2 linked regions of the Homo sapiens genome follow. The protein of the gene in region 1 interacts with the protein of each later gene in a biochemical or structural test. Each region holds a gene or a part of one and is shown on either strand. Other genes may lie near its edges.

Region 1 (7,297 bases):
TGTATCTATATATATAGATGCACCATTTAAAAAATACTGCATTTTTACTGCACCTTTTCTTTTTAGATACACAAATACTTACCATTGTGTTCCAACTGCCTATAGTAATTCAGTGCAGAAACATGCTGTACAGGTTTGTAGCCCAGGAGCAATAGGTTATACCATATAGCTTAGGTGTGTAGTAGGCCATACCATCCAGATTTGTGTAAGTATACTCTATGATGTTTGCACAATGATGAAATCACCTAATAACACATTTCTCAGAATGTATACCCGTTGTTAAGTGACTCATGACTGTACTTTAAAATGGCCAACTTTATGTTATCTGTATTTTACCACAATAAACAAAACAAAAAAGGTTTCAGGGTCATCTGGGACCTTTTTTTATTTCTCTTTCAATGTTCAGCATACCAATTCAAATATCAAAAACTCTAAGAAGTCCTGTAAGTAATCTGTATAACTTTATATAAGTCAATATTTTTTCAACTTATCACATTTCTATAAGTCAAAGACACACAATTTCACAGTTTCTGAAATAGAAATAAATCTTTACAATTTATGTGTACAACTGTTGTGATGGTATTCTTTGTGTGCCTAGAAGTGATTATTAAGCTGTAGTGCATCTTATCCACTGTCTCCTCAAATCAAGGAATTATGGAATTTTATTGCAGAAACTTTTGTTTGAGGCTCATAGTCTACTAATACCTCAGAGGACCCAGGTGTTGTCTGCTGCTTACAATGGTAGTCCCCAAAGTGGAGTGTGTGGGAAAAAAAAAAAAATCACAACTTTACCATTCTTTCATAATTTTTATATATAGGTAGCTATCTATCTATATAAAACAGTATACATAATATATAGTGACAAAACAAATGTACACAGCATATAAGGACAAACAAATCTAACTATACATATAAAACAATGTATATAATATATAAGGACAGTAGTTAAAAAAAAAAAAAAAAAGAGAACCTACTCTTTTAGGGCTCTGCTCTTGTATAGCTAGCGAGACCTAGAGCTGAAACTCTGCCCTAGCTCCAGGTTACCTTTTCTCTCTCCAGATATGAAATGTGAAGCGTGGCCAGGGGCACTGAGTCAGGGATGCTGAGCTTGCAAACCTGCCTTTCAGAAATTCTTCATCTTTACCTCTTAAAGCAGTTAAACCATCATTTCCTTGAAAAACTTAGAATATAATATGCTCCTTAAATTGTGTCAGGGTACTAATCCTAGAAGTTATCAAGTCTCTCATTTTAGAGTCTTCATAAAGTATTAAAAATGCAACTTAAGGCCGGGGACGGCGGCTCACGCCTGTAATCCCAGCACTTTGGGAAGCTGAGGTGGGCGGATCACGAGGTCAGGAGTTTGAGACCAGCTTGACCAACATGGTGAAACTCTGTCTCTACTAAAAATACAAAAATTAGCCTGGCGTGGTGGCGCGCACTTGTAATCCCAGCTACTCAGGAGGCTGAGGCAGGAGAATCGCTTGAACACGGGAGGCGGAGGTTGCAGTGAGCCGAGATCACACCACTGCACTCCAGCCTAGGTGACAGAGTGAGACTCCGTCTCAAAAAAAAAAAAAAAAAAAAAGAAACGCAACTTAAAAGAACAGAAAACTTCACCAACAAAACTATTCTTTGAACAGGCAACAATCATAGAGCAACGCTCTTTTGAGTTCTCCTCAGATGTGACAGACAAAATACTAACAAGACCATACATTTTCCTAACTCAAGAACCAGACTATTTATGTGAGCCCAAACCTAGAAATATCAATAACTTGGGCAACTGTAGAAACAAAGAATCCCAAATCCCAGGAGCCAACTGGGTATGGTGCATTTCCTCTGATACTGAAGGCACATCCTTGATCCTATTTCACAATGACAATGTCCAGTCTAAAAATGTGGCAAAAGGGAGAAGCAAATCTAAAAGATCAGAATTTTCCAGGTAAGTGTAAAAACTGTTAGATGTTAATTCTGATTGCTGGTGGGACACATTAATGAATATTGTTTTAAATAAAGTTAAACCAATTGTTTTGTTTTCTCTAATACAAAATGTTGGTTTGTATACTATAAAATTATTTCTTCTCTCATGCCACATGAAATACTCCAAAAATACTCTGCTTTGAAGATTGAATCTTACACAAGTTCTGGTAAAAAAAAAAAACCGTAACCTTTCTGCATGTCCAAGCATTCAAGCACCCACCCCCGCAACCCTGCCCTGGGGCCTTTAAAAAAAACAACAACAACAAAAAAAACCTTGTCACCTAAAGTGACTGTGGTAGAGGCATTTGAGAATTTCAGACAGTATCAAAGAGATATCTGATCTAAACAAACAAATGAAAACACTGCCACTTCCAATCTTGAGCCAGCATCATGGTTGCTTAAAGGTATGTTAAATAACCTATCCTTTGTACTTTGGATGTAAGTAGCCATAGTTTAAAAAGTGGTATGGTTTAAAAAAAAAAAAAACCACTCTCATTTCAATCCAAGGATTATGAAGACTAAATCGGAAAATCAGACAAATCAGAAACAAATCTAACTTTTTTTTTGAGACAGAGTTTTGCTCTTGTCGCCCAGGCCAGAGTGCAGTGCACTGCAACCTCTGCCTCCAGGCTTCAGCGACTCTCCTGCCTCAGCTTCTTGAGTAGATGGGATTACAGGTGCCCACCACCATGCCTGGCTAATTTTTGTATTTTTAGTAGAGATGGGGTTTGACCATGTTGGCCAGGCTGGTCTCGAACTCCTGATCTCAGGTGATGTGCCCGCCTCGGCCACCCATAGTGCTGGGTTTACGGGTGTGAGCCACTGCATCTGGCCCAAATCTAACTTTTAATAAGGTCATGGTATAAAACAAATATATTTGTACTCTCACCTATTCCATACTCACCTTGTTATACTAGGTTCTCAGTCCTTTGGAAATACAAAATGTTTTCAAAGTTCCTTGACACCTATTTTGCATTTAAGGGTACCTTTTATCCCAGCTGTTGGAGATTTCTCCAAGTGTCCATACTTTGAACAGAAAAGTCAGAATCCTGGGAATAACCATCTTTAAAGATGCTTTAAAGCCCAGAGTTTTTACCAGTGTTTCCCTGTGCCTTTGCATGTTTATCTAGAATTCCAGAGGCCTAAAATAAGGATCTAGAGCTATTCTAGGACATGCACTGCTTGGCTCATTGCTTCATTAACCTGACCTAGTTTAGCAAAAAATTTGCCAGCCCTCCTTCCATGAAAGTATTCACTCAGCTACTTTAATGGGGAATGTTAACAGTAATCTGACTCAAGTTTTTCAAAAGATTTTCTATTCTCCCTGTGGCCTTTACATCAGGGAAATATATGGGCAGGAAAAGGGAGGCAGCAACCTCTATGCTAGTTTCTGGAGAGAAACTATGGTATGAAAAGACTGCAAGTCCATGTGCTTTTTAAAAAGAAAAGGTCACAGATACATACCTGTTTCATCCTTGCTGCAGCTCTATTTGAAAATAGAATCGACCTCTCCTTTTGGAAGCAGGATGGGCACATTTCGAGGGCTCGACTATAAGAACTTTCAGCTTCTATATAATCTGAGGATAAGAGAAAGGATGAATGGTCATTTTGATTTTATTCCTGATACTACTATATTCCACAGGATCTCAGAAGCACTGTTTTCCATTCATAGGATGAAGGTTTTGAGTTAAAAGATGGTAACAGTCTATTAAGTCTGGCGCAGTAAAAATCATTTCTTCTTTTCTTCTCTCTTTAAAGGAACAGTGCTTGCTTGTGCCAATCTCACAGGCTGTGCTTGGTGAACTGACAGCTGAACATGCTGTCAGTGACAAGCCCTCAATACTCAGGAGTCCTGGCATTCCCTCAATGTTCAGTTTTCATTTGGCTGGGCAATTCAGAAAGGAGTTTTCAAAGGAGGTTACAGAACTGGACAGAGGAAAGAGACTAAACTCTGGGATCCATGGCCTGAGATAAAGAAAAAAATTATACATATTTGTTTTCATTAAATCTGTTGTGCTTTCATACAGTCAACCTGGCTAAAACAGCATCCGTGAAATGTTTGAAGAGAGACATTTGATAGAGCTAAAAGGAACAATGTAAAAATCAATATTTAAATCAAGACCTTAAAAGAGAAAATGGTGAAAAAGAGAATTATGGTCAGGATACTAATAGAAAATTGCCTATGTACTCCTTTCTCAGGTTTGAAATATTTAATATTAACATACAAAAAATATGCTTCCAAAATTAGAAGTGTTTATTCTATTAGAAAACAGTATTAATGATTACTAAACCAAGATATAGGAAAAAAAAAAAAACCCTAAAATCTGAAATCAGGTAATAGGGTAACTTTTGGAAAACAATAAGAAAAAAATTAAAAACCTGAAAATAACTAGCGGAAAATGTTAACACTCCTAGATTTCTGAAGCATATACACTTTAAGATGTGACAGAAGACTTTTGCTCTAAGATCAAATAGTTACCCCAAATTATCAGAATGAACCCCACCAACTTATTTCTAAGCAAATGTAGAAAATGCAGAAGGACATGAAGAATCTCCCTACTTAAGGCATCCAAAGAAAATGGCACATGAAAGAGCAACCTTTCTGAAGCAGTTTGGAGAATTTAAAAAAAGAAAGAAAGAAAGAAAGAGCAACCAAAGGACAGGCAGCCCTAGGCCATACCAGAGCAGTCAGGCTGCTTTCACAGCCCCACAGCAAGTGAGGAGCGGCGACTCTGCTTTCACAGCAATGCAGCACATAACCTTTAATATTCCAGGTTAGTGTTTTCCAAAGCAAGAGCTCAAGAGTTTTACCCCTGATTCTAGACTAACAGATAGTGGATTACAGAAAGACTATGCATGTGCCAAGAGACAAATGGTAACTGGTCACCATCAGATGAATAATTTGGCCTGGTTAAAAACTCAAAATGCCAAGGTACTGGGAAGCAACACTGTATTGTGAAGTCTGGTTTTGGGGTTTCTTCAGATGTTCTTTGGGGTTTCTTCACAGACTCTACAACAGGATGAGGAGTCAAGATGACCAGATTATCAGTGCTGAAAGTCGTCTTACCTCCTTTCTTAAACTGTTCATTTCCCTCCTCCTTTAGTCTAGTGCTCTCTTCTCTTCTTTTCTGAAAGACATCAGAGAATTACATAATTTCTCACAATATTATTATAAGTGAACAAAAAGGTGAGCTTTCCTTATGCACAAGTCTATTTAATAGGCAACAGTCTGACTTTTGAGAACTGCATCAGTTTCACCAAAACCTTGTACAGTGATAGAGGAAAAAAAACACATGACCATCAGGCTAATTATCAATTGCATTCTTGATGTTTAAAACAAAAAATGTAGGTCTTCTTGGCATGTCCTTTGCTTTCTATGTTTCTATCTTTTGCAATGGAATGATAATTACAGTATCACTTAATTTCTACTTACTCAGAAATGAAACTAAATAACATACCCACTGGTGTGCATACCAGTGTAAATTCAAATTGTAGCTTCTAGTACTTACTAGTTATGTGGCCTCGGACAAGTTTCAGAATCTTTCTGAGCCTTAGTTTCTTCATTTCAAAAATGAAGCTTTAATAGTATTATGGACTACTGTTTAATGGATTAATGTCATAATATACATAAAGCTGCCCATACAGTGACTAGCAAATAAGGGCTCAATAAATAAGCTATTATTTTCTGTGAAATAAGTACTTTAATCCTTATAAGAACCCTTCATGGTTTGTGTCATGAAGGAGACACAGTATGCTAGGAGAGCACATTTGTGGGTACAAGCCAAGTCTGTAGGGTTAGGGCAGTATACTGTTAGCAGGTTAACATAGGAAAATGTGAAGAAACCTAAATAAATAAGTCTGTCTTTTCTTAGCTTATTCAAACAACTCAGAAACTCACATAGATGGCCAAAAACTCATCAAACACAAAGGCTGAGAGAATGTTATCCTGCAAAGCAAAGTAGACGCATGCTGAGTGTGTGCACTTTTTTGTGGAACATCTTAACAATATAACTGGCACAAGCCAAACCAGAAGAGTCTGTATGCCTGCCACCTTTTGACAGTGCTTTAAAACAAAAACAACAAAAAAACCCCAAAAACAGAAAATCTACCAAAGTCCCTTAAAAAAAAAAAAAAAAAAAAAGAGATAGGGTCTCACTATGTTGTCCAGGCTAGAGTGCAGTGTCTATTCACAGATGTGATCAACACACACTATAACCTTGAACTCTTGGACTCAAGTGATCCTTCTGCCTCAGCCTCCTGAGTAGATGGGACTATAGGTGCACACCACTGTGCTGGGCTCTTTCCTCCTTCTTGAAGCTTCTGATTAAGTAATTTCAAAGGGAGGAAATACAGTTAGCATTCTGATTAAGTAATTTCAAAGGGAGGAAATACAGTTAGCAGGGTATTTCATGCACAAGAGAAGCCTGGAACCTAAACAATTGGTCCTTTTAACATGAGGAACTGATATGATCTGTGTTCCTACCCAAATATCCCCACGGGTCAAGGGACGGACCCTGGATCATGGGGACGGTTCCCCCATGTTGTTCTCATGATAGTGAGTTCACTTTCATGAGAACTGATGGTTTTCAAGTGCCACACTTTAAAACCATCAGCTTTCTCTTCACTTTCCGCCATGATTGTTAAGTTTCCTGAGGCCTCTATAGCCATGTGGAACTGTGAGTCAATTCAACCTCTTTTGTTTATAAATCACCCACTCTCAGGCAATTCTTAATAGCAGTGTGAAAATGGATTAATACAGGAACCAAAATAAAAACATTCTTTCTCTGGAAAAGATTTGTCAATATGCTATTGATGAGACCGGGTATTTCCCAAATGTCTTATTATTACACTATGGATTAAACAGAGCACTTGATGAATCTCAGTGAGGAAACTAAAAGGTAAGTATAGAGTGAATCTAATTTTTATGGTACATACTATGTGCCAGACACACAGCAGGTACAAATAACAATTCATTTTAAGATATAACGTATCTGAGGGAAGGGCTATTCTAAAGGAATTCAGAAAAAAATAAAATATAAGAATATGGCCATATTTACCTAGTACTACCCATAAGAAAGATGCTTAGATTGTAATGATCTCTACTGTATTGATTAGGGTTACTGGATGCAAGCAAAAGACTATCTTAAGCAAAAAACTTTAGGGGGCAGGTTTACTGGCAAGGTATCAGTGCTCACAGAATCAGTGAGAGGCTTAACGAATAGGCTTAGAAAGCAGGTAGAACTTGGCTGGGCGTGGTGGCTCACGCCTGTAATCCCAGCACTTTGGGAGGCTGAGGCAGGCAGATCATGAGGTCAAGAGA
Region 2 (4,514 bases), on another chromosome or scaffold:
TGTGGTTAATCCAGGGACCAACGTGGGGAAGGTACATATTCACTAGCACTTTCCCCAGAACACCACTGTGAGGATAAAGTGTGGTGGCGGGTGTCCTGCTTAGCTACTGCCGAGTAACAAACCATCCCCAAACTTAGTGACTTAAACTGGTCATTTTCCTTTGCTTATGATTTTGTGGGTCAGGAATTTGGGAAAGGTTGAGCTGGGTAAGTTCATCTCTGATCCATGTGACATCAGCTGGGCTCTATGGGATTGGAGATAAACTTCCAAGATGGCTTCTTCCCCCATATGTCTGGTGCCTTGGTGCTCTTGGCACTCTTGGCCTCTCTCTCTGTGTCTCTCCCTGCCTCCCTCTCCCATCTCATCTCTCTCTCCTCCCCTTTCTCCTAGTCTGTCTCTCCTTTTCCACCTCCCCTGTTCTCTCTGTCTCCATCTGGGGCCTCATGATCCACAGCCTCTTCACATGGTTTGAGCTTACTCACAATATGGCTGCCTCAGGGTAGACAGACTTCAGCCCAGGTGGAAGCTGCTTCTCATGATAGCCTCAGAAATGTCAGACGTTACTCTGCCACATTCTATTTGTCAAGCACATCACTCATATCAGCCCGGATTCAAAAGAAAGAGACTCCATCTCTTGAAGGCAGCATGACACATGCATACAGGGAGGGAAGGAAGTGACGGCAGCCATCTTGGAGATAACTTGCCTTCATGTCCTGGGGATGCCGTAACAAAGTACCACAAACTGGGTGGCTTAAAACAACAGGAAACAACAGAAGTCCAAAGTTAAGGTATTGGCAAGGTTGGTTCCTTTTGGAGGCTCTAAGGGAAAATCCATTCCATGCTTCTCTCTCAGCTTCTGGTGGTGGCCTACAATCCTTAGCTTGTAGACATATCACTGCAATCTCTGCCTCCATGTTCACATGGCTGTCTTCTCACCATGCCTTTATGTGTCCTCTCCTGTTGTTATAAGGCCACCAGTCATTGGATTTAGGGCCCATACTTTGGTATGACCACTTTTTTTTTTTTTTTTTTTTTTTGAGACAAGGTCTTGCTCTGTTGCCCAGGCTAGAGTCCAGTGGTGTGATCACAGTTCACTGCAGCCTCAACCTCCTGGGCACAGGTGATCCTCCCACCTCAGCCTCTTGAGTTGCTGGGACTACAGGCGCACACCACCACACCTGGGTAATTTTTGTATATTTCTGTAGAGACAGGGTTTCGCCATGTTGCCCAGGCTGATCTGGAACTCCTGGGCCCAACCACACATCTGTCATCCACCTGCCTTGGCCTTCCAAAGTGCTAGGATTACAGGCGTGAGCCCTCATGCCTGGCCATGACCTAATTTAACTTAACTAATTACATCTGCAAATATCCGATTTCTAAAAGTCATATTCTGAAGTTCCAGGTGGACATGAATTTTGGGGGACACTGTTCACCTCAATATACAAGCAACCATAGTAGATGAGTCCTTAGTACATGCTTGACACCAGGTCCACAATCAGTAAACATAAACTTTGGTGAAGTCACCAGGTTTTGATCCCTGGTCTTGTCATGTCTCAGAGCCCATGAGGCCAATTTTAGCCAATTATACCCACAAGATTCAGGGTCTGGGAGATAGACGTCAAGTTGTTCCAGGATGGTGGCCTGGATAGCCCCTCTTCCTTGCCAAGCAGCCCTGGGAATCAGCTCATAGTTTAGAGAATTTGGGAACAGGATAAGGTAGATATTTTTTTCATTCAGGTCAAAGGGAACCACCCATGACTCATCCTTGTCTCCCAGCACAAGTGACTGGTGCACTCTTTGCTGACTCCCAGCCCTACCCTCCACTGTGCTAAATAATATTTGTGATAATAATAAGAAACCACACTTTGGGAGGCTGAGGCGCGCAGATCGCTTTAGGTCAGGAGTTTGAGACCAGCCTGGCCAACATGGCAAAGCCCCATCTCTGTTAAAAATACAAAAATTAGCTGGGTGTGGTGGCGGGGGCCTGTCATCCCAGTTACTCGGGAGGCTGAGGCAGGAGAATCGCTTGAACCCAGGAGGTGGAGGTTGCAGTGAGCTGAGATCATGCCACTTCACTCCAACCTGGGTGACAGAGTGAGACTCTGTCTCAAAATAATAATAATAATAATAATGATAATAATAATAAAATTGATAACAGCAGCTAACACATCTACCGCACTGGTGGAAGCACTCTACAAAGCTTCTTTAATCTTCATGTTAAAACCCTATGCAGGGCTGGGCACAGTGGCTCACGCCTGTAATCCCAGCGCTTTGGGGGGGTCAAGGCGGGCTGATCATTTGAGGTCAGGAGTTCGAGACCAGCCTGGCCAACATGGCAAAACCCCATCTCTACTAAAAATACAAAAATTACCTGGGCATGGTGGCAGGCGCCTGTAATCCCAGCTACTGCCAAGATTGCACCATTGCACTCCAGCCTGGGCGACAGAGCGAGGCCCCATCTCAAGAAAAAAAAAAAGAGGACTCTCTTCCCCTCGTTTGGCCTTGATGCCGCCATCTTCACAGTCCTGGGATATTTGTCTATGCGATTCCAGTCTTCCAACTGCACTGGCTGTAAGCGAGGCCAAGAGAGTGTCTCTCTTTAACACAGTTCTGCCCGAAGTCCCAGAGCTGGGTCTCATTGGTCCATTTCAGGTCACATGACTCGTGTGAGACAATCTCCTGTGTTCCCATTGGCTGGGCCGGAGTCGTGTGACCAGCTATGACTACAAAAGATGGAGTCAACGCACAGAAAAATGACAGGCGCGATCCCTGGGTCCCTTCAGTGCTGGTTACAGGGAAGAGGGTCTCCAGAGGCCCCCTGGGTCCAAAGAGGGAGGGTCCTCACCCCCTTCCCACACTGTTTCCCCAGGCCCTAAGCAGGATGCTGAGGCAGCCAAGAGGTTCATCCTGGACATGTACACGAGGATGTACACCGGGTGCGTGGACGGCCCCGAGGGCAGCAAGAAGGGCGCACGATCCCGACGCCTCTTCAGCCACTACACATGTGCCACAGACACACAGAACATCCGCAAGGTCTTCAAGGACGTGCGGGACTCGGTGCTCGCCCGCTACCTGGACGAGATCAACCTGCTGTGACCCAGGCCCCACCTGGGGCAGGCGGCACCGGCGGGCGGGTGGGAGGTGGGAGTGGCTGCAGGGACCCCTAGTGTCCCTGGTCTATCTCTCCAGCCTCGGCCCACACGCAAGGGAGTCGGGGGACGGACGGCCCGCTGCTGGCCGCTCTCTTCTCTGCCTCTCACCAGGACAGCCGCCCCCCAGGGTACTCCTGCCCTTGCTTGACTCAGTTTCCCTCCTTTGAAAGGGAAGGAGCAAAACGGCCATTTGGGATGCCAGGGTGGATGAAAAGGTGAAGAAATCAGGGGATTGAGGACTTGGGTGGGTGGGCATCTCTCAGGAGCCCCATCTCCGGGCGTGTCACCTCCTGGGCAGGGTTCTGGGACCCTCTGTGGGTGACGCACACCCTGGGATGGGGCTAGTAGAGCCTTCAGGCGCCTTCGGGCGTGGACTCTGGCGCACTCTAGTGGACAGGAGAAGGAACGCCTTCCAGGAACCTGTGGACTAGGGGTGCAGGGACTTCCCTTTGCAAGGGGTAACAGACCGCTGGAAAACACTGTCACTTTCAGAGCTCGGTGGCTCACAGCGTGTCCTGCCCCGGTTTGCGGACGAGAGAAATCGCGGCCCACAAGCATCCCCCCATCCCTTGCAGGCTGGGGGCTGGGCATGCTGCATCTTAACCTTTTGTATTTATTCCCTCACCTTCTGCAGGGCTCCGTGCGGGCTGAAATTAAAGATTTCTTAGAGGCTGCGTCGCCAGCGTCCTGTTTATCCCCTCTGCATTCCTTTCTCGGCTTACGTGTCCCGGGGGCAGTGCTTACAGTGCGGGGAGCAACGTGGAGTAGGAAGGAAAAAAGTTATACTTCTTGTCTACCCACCTGTCCTGGCCATGGTACCCAGAACTGTGGAGGCTGTGAGTCCCGCAAGCCGGGACGTGGAGTCCAACCTCCCTCCCAGGCTGGGGGGGACATTGAAGCAGACTCCTCCGTGGCTACTGACCTGAAATTCCAGTAGCAGCCCCCACCCAGCTTTGAGAAGGCCTCTTACTATCCTCAGGGCAGTGTTCTGGGGTGCAAGCCGTAGCACCCCACTTTACAGGTGAGGAAACCGGGGCGCAGAGAAGTGGAGTAATTTGACTAAGCTCACACACCTGGAATTGACAGAGGCAGGAGCCTGTTCCTACGTTGAACACATTTGTGGTTTTTTATTTGTTTGTTTTTTGAGACAATCTCACTTGGTTGCCCAGGCTGGAGTGCAGTGGTGCGATCTCGGTTCACTGCAGCCTCTGCCTCCTGGGTTCAAGTGATTCTCATGCCTCAGCCTCTGCAGTAGCTGAGATTACAGGCACCCGCCACCACACCTGGCTACTTTTTTTTTTTTTGATGGAGTCCCGCTCTGTGGCCCAGGCTGGAGTGCAGTGGCGCAATCTCGTCTCACTG

Evidence for each region.
Region 2: the proteins of TTC1 (region 1) and GNA15 form a complex in vitro, tested with the Homo sapiens proteins (one study listed by BioGRID).

The regions. Positions count from the first base shown.
Region 1 is NC_000005.10:160,032,948-160,040,244, reverse strand, and holds part of TTC1 (tetratricopeptide repeat protein 1), read right to left. Parts: intron 5,106-7,297; coding exon 5,045-5,105; intron 3,555-5,044; coding exon 3,442-3,554; intron 1-3,441.
Region 2 is NC_000019.10:3,159,924-3,164,437, forward strand, and holds the end of GNA15 (guanine nucleotide-binding protein subunit alpha-15), read left to right. Parts: intron 1-2,869; coding exon 2,870-3,096; 3' UTR 3,097-3,826; downstream 3,827-4,514. UniProt on the Homo sapiens protein: Guanine nucleotide-binding proteins (G proteins) are involved as modulators or transducers in various transmembrane signaling systems.